2 linked regions of the Homo sapiens genome follow. The protein of the gene in region 1 purifies or fractionates together with the protein of each later gene. This does not show direct contact. Each region holds a gene or a part of one and is shown in the gene's direction. Other genes may lie near its edges.

Region 1 (3,653 bases):
TTAAAATTTTAAAAACCCTGGACTGAACGAAGAAACACTTGAACCCCTTCAGTAGGTATTGAACACTTTTCTAGGCACTGTGTAAGCACAGTGGAAATAAAATAATACTTTGCTCCTGCTCTGACAGGTATGGTCTTTGTGGGAAGGATGGTCAGGCAAGTACATTTCCCAGGATATATGACATCAGTGATGGTTATCAGAAGAATATACAGATTGTTAAGTCATTACGCACATCATAAAGTCAAATGTAATAGGAAGTTTCTGGGTTTTTTTTTGACATGGTTTGCAAATATTCTGATTACTTGAAGGCCATGATAGGGCATGAATTAGTATAGAGTAGTATCTGTTGTGATTCACATCTGGTTCCTGAGTTCGGATAGTAGTAATTCTCATGGTAAATTAGAAAAGTGATAAATTCGTCTGGAAATTTATTCATATCTATTTGGATAGTAAGAGTTCACTCCTTAAGCCTAAAATAATATGGTTGCGTCTTTGTTGATATTTTTTAATAATCACACTATATTTAGTGCTTCTGGATCATCAGTAATGGGATGAATTAGATGATCTCTCTAGTCTCTTTCCCTTGAAGAATTTCTTGAATCTATTATTTTTAGATACTCAGTTACCAGTTAATAATAAATTTACTTTTTCAGTAATGTTTTTACTGAAGTGAACCTTACATGACATAAAATCATTTTAGTGTTAGTGGCATTTAATATGTTCACAAAGTTGTATAACCACCACTTCTTCCTAGTTCCAAAACATCATTATTTCTTTTTTCACTTTAGGATTTTTGCAATGAAGGAAATCAGTTTTGGGCTTGGCCTAATTTTTGGTTTATATTGAGCCGTTTAACTTGCTGTATTATAATTCTCGATGCAATGTAAAATTAGTAAAACATTACAATAAAAAATTTAAAAACTATATCCAGTGCTAGTAGGAGTCTTATGATTCTCTTACAGTTGTGTTTGTTTTTTGGTCATGTTTTATATTCCATGGCTCCCATATTTTCTCTATCTTAATAGATAGAGAAATAATAATTATTTCTTAATAAAAATTAATTTCTTAATAAAAATAATTCATTTTTAAATAAATTTAGTTATGCTACATCAGTGATATACAGCATAACTTTGGATTGTTAACTAGAGCATGGAGATGCTTATTCAAAAAACAAAACTGGTTTTGGGATTTAGGAGATGTAGGCGTTATCTCTAGTTCTGATGATGGTGGGATTTTCATGGGGATAGTGTTGAATCTGTAGATCAATTTGGAGACAATTGCCAGTTTCACAGTCTATGAACATGGTAGATCTATTTATTTAGGTCTTTGATTTATATCTTTAATCTTTTGTAGTTTTCAGCAGAAAGTTCTTGTGTGTATTTTGTTCGATTTCATATTTTTTAAAAGTACTTCTGTGAGTGATACTGTTCTTAAATGTTTCCAGTTCATTGTTCATTGCTAATTTGTAGAAATACAATAGATTTTTATATTCTAATTTATAGCCTACAACCTTCCTAAACATACTTATTCTGGTGGCTTCTTTGTAGATTCCTTCTGATTTTCTGTGTAGACAACCATGTCGTATTTGAATAGAGAGAATTTTCTTTCTTTGCAATCTGTATCTCTTTTACTTCTTTATTTTGTCCTGTTTGTACAGTCTAGCAATTGATACAATTGATAAATGACAACAGGCTATCCCATTTCTTTCTGTATTAACTGTGGGAACAATGTATCTAAATAGAGGGCCAGTTTTCAAATAAAGTTAATCCTCACTTTGCCTCCTATTGTGTTAACTGAAACATGCCTATATCAGAACTGTGTTCATGCTTTCCCTGGAACTGAAGCTTTGCAAAACCAGGACATGGTTCTGATATGTATGAGCTTTAGTTCACAGGGTGCTTTGCAAGGCGAGGACTGAATTTTTTCTTAGCAATACAGATATGCTAAATCTAGATCTTTCCTGGGGATAGTTTTCCCTTTGAACAGTCACCAATTTTTTAAATTGGGAAAATGTAGGTTTTTGTTTGTTTGTTTGTTTTGCTTTTAAAATTACCAGGCAAAATGATGAAGTAGTAGTAAGATGGAAACTGTGGACAAAAATGAAATTGTTAGGATTTTCTGTGGGTTTACTGGGCATGCAGTATTTATTGGTTGTTTTTATTGATTGTGGTTAATATCTGTCTTTGTTTCCTACTTAGATAAATAAGATGAAATTAATAATTGGCTATGAATGTTTTCTGTCATGTATATAGTATAATGATGCCATATCATATTTTATGTTTCCTCAAATTATATACTTTTATTATTTAATTTAACTGAAAGAGGCTTACTTGATATTTTCAGTGTGTGTTTGTTCTTACTTATTTTAGATAATGTGCAAAATGGCTCCCATGGTTGGGAAGGATATTACAGAGCGTCTTATCCTCCCTAGGTTTTGTGAGATGTGCTGCGATTGCAGAATGTTTCACGTTCGAAAGGTATTTTTTTGTCGTTTTTTTTCTGCTGTTTAAGAACATAGTTCTAGTGGTTAATGTACTGATACATGATATTTAAAAGATTATCTTAGAAGAACCTTATGTGTAATATTTTGAAATGTCAATGATGCTTTTGTTGTCAGGTCTGTGCTGCCAATTTTGGAGATATTTGCAGTGTAGTTGGCCAGCAAGCTACTGAAGAAATGTTGGTAAGTATTGCAGATATAAAGGAGTAAACAGTGTGTGTTACAAAGTAGTACATAAAGTTTGAAATGCACACATTTACTCCAAAGTTTTATTAACACAATTCCATGAATATAAACCAGAAAGATAATTTTGAATTTAGGAGTTTAAATATCTGTAATCTGGGCATTTGAATTATCTTTTTGATATTTATTAAAAATATGGATATGTTTCAGAACCATTGATCTGTTTTCACCTCTTCCATTTCTGTTAAGCAAATCAATTCTTACTTATTCAATTGAACCTTTAATTTTATTGCAACCCTCAAGAATGTTGATGACATATTAAATCTATAGCAAGTTAGTTTTAAATAGTACACAAGATGCCTATACTTGATGTATAAGTCACCATATCTAAAGAGTTTCTGAAGCCATCTCTTATGCAAAATAATTAAGTTCAGGGGCAAGCTCTTGTAAAACATTTAAGCTATGATTGTTGGGAGTGCTTTTGCATAGCCAGAAATATTGCATAAGACAATCCAGTATGCTTTTGCATAGCCAGAAATCCGACGGACCAAATTATCAGCACTTTTTATTAATTTATCAGTGATCTTTCATGTTGGGTAGGGTTTTGATTATCACTTTTGTGAAATAATACATTTCTGTCCGTTTTAAAGCAAACATAATTTTGACTCATAAGAAATAACTTAAAATTTAAGATATATTATTATATGTTATATATTTATAATTTAAGATACATTATTTTTTATACTTTTAGGAATAGACAGTAAATTAGATGTGATTTATTGAAAATTGTTGAGTATAAATACTAATAGATCCTACTTTTTAAGACAATCCAACATTTAAAACACTGAGGCTGGGCGTGGTGGCTCACACCTGTAATCCTAGCACTTTGGGAGGCCAAGGCAGGTGGATCACCTGAGGTCAGGAGTTCGAGACCAGCCTGGCCAACATGGTGAACCCTCATTTCTACTAA
Region 2 (3,653 bases), on another chromosome or scaffold:
TTGTGGCAATTTTATTGGGACATAGAAAGGAAAAGTGTTAGAATTGAGGGATCAGATCTGGTAAGTGGTAAATTGTATGTGTTTAAGGTGTCTTATACTCAGTCTACAGTTAGCATCGCTCCTTCCTCTGCCTGGCCCCCCTCCTCTAACTTCTAGACTCTAGTTTAAAATGAAGCTATTCGGCTCTGCTCAGACCGGTATGTGGAAGGGAGAAAGGTAAGATTCTTCAGTCCTGTGAAATCACATCATTCAGGGAGGTTTGGGCATTGCCTTTTGGAACTGACAGGGTCCAGGAGTGTCTGAGGCTCTACTCTGTTTCGTTAGGACCCCTAAAGGGGAGAAAGGTATACTTGGGGCACTTAAACTAGGAAAGGAGTTTTGTGAAATCATATCAGGTATCTTTGACCTTTATTGAAAGAGTCAGGCCGGGCGTGGTGGCTCCTGCCTGTACTCAGTACTTTGGGAGGCCAAGGCAGGTGGATCACTTGAGGCCAGGAGTTTGAGACCAGCCTGACCAACATGGCAAAACCCCGTCTCTACCAAAAAATACAAAAAAATTAGGTGGGCATGTTGGCGTGAGCCTTTAGTCTCAGCTACTTGGGAGGCTGAGGCAGGAGAATTACTTAAACCCGGGATGCAGAGGTTGCAGTGAGCTGAGATCACGCCACTGCACTCCAGCCTGGGCAACAGAGCAAGACTCTGTCTCAAAAAAAAAAAAAAAAAAAAGAGTCAGAAGTTAATTGACTGAGCATCTCATAGTGTTCTCTTTCCAGCTTTCCTATGGATTTTCTGAGAGTCTTTGAGTAAGGAGGAACTAACCTTCTCAGGTATGTTTTCGCTATCTGGTCATCCTGACTGCTGCTTCTTTGCAGTGTCTTTTCTCCCTACTGTTCTTCTCTGCTGCTTCTGTATCTTCCTTGTTTTTCTTTCCTTCTCCACAGTACTCAAGACCAACTTCTGAAGTCCTCTGTTTCAGACCTGTGTATGTAGATACAGTTTCTATAGAGTTACTGTAAATGTTGCATAGTGAAAAGAGTAAGTAGCCACTGTTTACCATTTGTAGGTTGGCTCTTCATGCCTCTAAGATTCCTTATTTTGTTATCATTTCTGTTATTGAACATCTTTAAAGAAGTTCTTAGGTAGTAGAAAGTGCTTGCACTAAAAATAACTTTTCAACATTTTCCTTATCTATTAAGCTACTTTCTCCATTCATTATCTTGAACAATACCATAATATCTTCATAATACATGGATTTTTTAATTTAATTTTTGTCAAAATTGTACATGTACATGGTTTAAACAGTCAAATAGTTCAGTAGAGCTTGTAACACTAAATAATAGTTTCCTCTCCCGACCCACTTTTTTTTTTTGAGATGGAGTTTCGCTCTGTTGCCCAGACTGGAGTGCAGTGGTGCGACCTCGCCTCACCACAACCTCTGCCTCGCGGGTTCAAGTGATTCTCCTGCCTCGGCCTTCTGAGTAGCTGAGATTACAGGTGCCTGCCACCATGCCTGGCTAATTTTTTGTATTTTTAGGAGAGACGTGGTTTCGCCACGTTGGCCAGGCTGGTCTCAAACTCCTGACCTCAGGTGATCCTCCTGCCTCAGCCTTCCAAAGTGCTGGGATTACAGACTTGAGCCGCTGTGCCCAGCCTACTTTTTGTATTTTTAGTAGAGACAGGGTTTCACCATGTTACCCAGGCTGGTCTAGAACTCCTGGCCTAAAGCAATCCGCCCACCTCAGCTTCCCAAAGTGCTGGGATTACAGGTGTGAGCCACTCACTGATCCTGGCCATCACTATATTTATTTTTTCTTTTCTTTTCTTTTCTTTTTTTTTTTTTTTTTTTTGAGACTGTGTCTTGCTCTGTCGCCCAGGCTGGAGTGCAGTGGCACGATCTTGGTTCACTGCAACCTCTGCCTCCTGGGTTCAAGTGATCCTCCTGCCTCAGCCTCCCAAAATATTGGGATTACAGTTGTGAGCCACCACACCTGTCCAATTGTACTTCTTTATTATGGACTTTGAGGCTCTAGGTCTCTTGTATCATCAACCTCCCCCTACTCCTCCTCTTACTCACTTTATCCTCCCAATATAGTTTGCTCATAATTTTTGGTTAGGCTAATATCAAGATTTATATTAATAAAATTATGTTAGTATTATTCTCAACTGAATAGGGAGTATGATATACTAATATTTTCTTTACTCTTTTTATTTATTTATTTATTTTTTGAGATAGGGTCTCTCTCTGTCACCCTGCCATAGCAGGATCACAGCTCACTGCAGCCTTAACTTTTTGGGCTCAAGCAACCTTCCCACTTCTACCTCCTGAGTAGCTAGGACCACAGGTGTGTGCCACCAGGCTTGGCTAATTTCTAAATATTTTGTAGAGGTGGGGGTCTCACTACATTGCCCAGGCTGGTCTCAAACTCCCGGCCTCAAGTGATCTTCTCACTTTGGCCTCCCAGAGTACTATGATTACAGGAATGGGCCATTGCATCCTGCCTGTGGTAACATATTCTATCTTGTATAACTTTTTTGTCTTCCCTGGCATTAATAATTTTTGTTACTGTTTTTATTAGCATGGCTTTTTGTATCCTTATCTCTTGTTCATGCCCGGATTATCCGGTAGAAGTATGATTCTCCTCTCCTGGGTACTGTCTATGTCGTCCAGCATGAGCTGGTTGCTCTTTATGTCTGTTCACAGCTCTTGTCCTGGGATCTTCCTTCACCTTTTTCCTGGGATTTCCCTTTGCTTCTCTGTATTGAACCCTAGTTTCTGGATCCCATATCTCTACTGCCAACTTTCAGGTCTTCAATTGTGGTAGCTCTCCTTACTTTGATCCTGGAGCATCCTGCGAACTCTTTGCCTCATGTAGATTTCAGCCTTTGAGGTCTTCTCTTTGTTCTTTTTTAAAGTACAGGTTGAGCATTCCAAACCTGAAACTCCAAAATGCAAAATGCTCCAAAATCTGAAACTTTTTGAGCACCAACATGATACTCAAAGGAAAAAAAAATGATTGGAGTATTTCAGATTTTGGATTTTTGAATTTGGAATGCTCACTGGTCAGTATAAAGCACATAGTCCAAAAACTGAAAAAGTTTAAAATCTGAAACACTTCTGGTCTCAAGCATTTTGGACAAGGGATACTCAACTTGCAGTATAAACCGTAGTGATAGAATCGTAGACTGTTAGAGGTGGAAGGGACTTTCAAGCTTACCTAGTTCTAACCCTCCAGCTCCCTGGCACCTGGAAATCCTAGAAGACCATAGATTGTTCAGCCATCCCACCCCGTACTGCCCCCCGAACCTGTTTTCTGACATCCATTCTTGTCTCTCTAGTACACCAATAATGTGGGCTGAAGAGTCAGACAGTCTTTAATATTAGGCTCCACTCAATCCCTTGGCTGTGTAACTTTTGGCAGGTTTCTTAATCTTGTGGTCTCTTTCTCATCAGTAATATGGGGATTATAAACTTACATTACAGAGATGTTATAAGGATGGGAACTAATGCAGATAAAGCAGCTTTACAAGGCTCTAAGCCTTGGCACAGAGGAGGCCCTAAGGCATAGCTCTGGTTATTTCCATCTTGGATCTTAGCCTGTGTTTTTACAAATCAAAAAGTGTCACATGAATTCAAAACACTGGAGCTGCACCAA

Evidence for each region. The genes of interacting proteins can lie anywhere in the genome.
Region 2: the proteins of PPP4R1 (region 1) and FASTKD5 purify together in Homo sapiens (affinity purification with mass spectrometry; one large-scale study listed by BioGRID and IntAct). This does not show direct contact.

What each region holds. Positions count from the first base shown.
Region 1 is NC_000018.10:9,583,545-9,587,197, reverse strand, and holds part of PPP4R1 (serine/threonine-protein phosphatase 4 regulatory subunit 1), read left to right. Parts: intron 1-2,369; coding exon 2,370-2,477; intron 2,478-2,617; coding exon 2,618-2,683; intron 2,684-3,653. UniProt on the Homo sapiens protein: Regulatory subunit of serine/threonine-protein phosphatase 4. May play a role in regulation of cell division in renal glomeruli. The PPP4C-PPP4R1 PP4 complex may play a role in dephosphorylation and regulation of HDAC3.
Region 2 is NC_000020.11:3,153,247-3,156,899, reverse strand, and holds part of FASTKD5 (FAST kinase domain-containing protein 5, mitochondrial), read left to right. Parts: intron 1-3,653. UniProt on the Homo sapiens protein: Plays an important role in the processing of non-canonical mitochondrial mRNA precursors.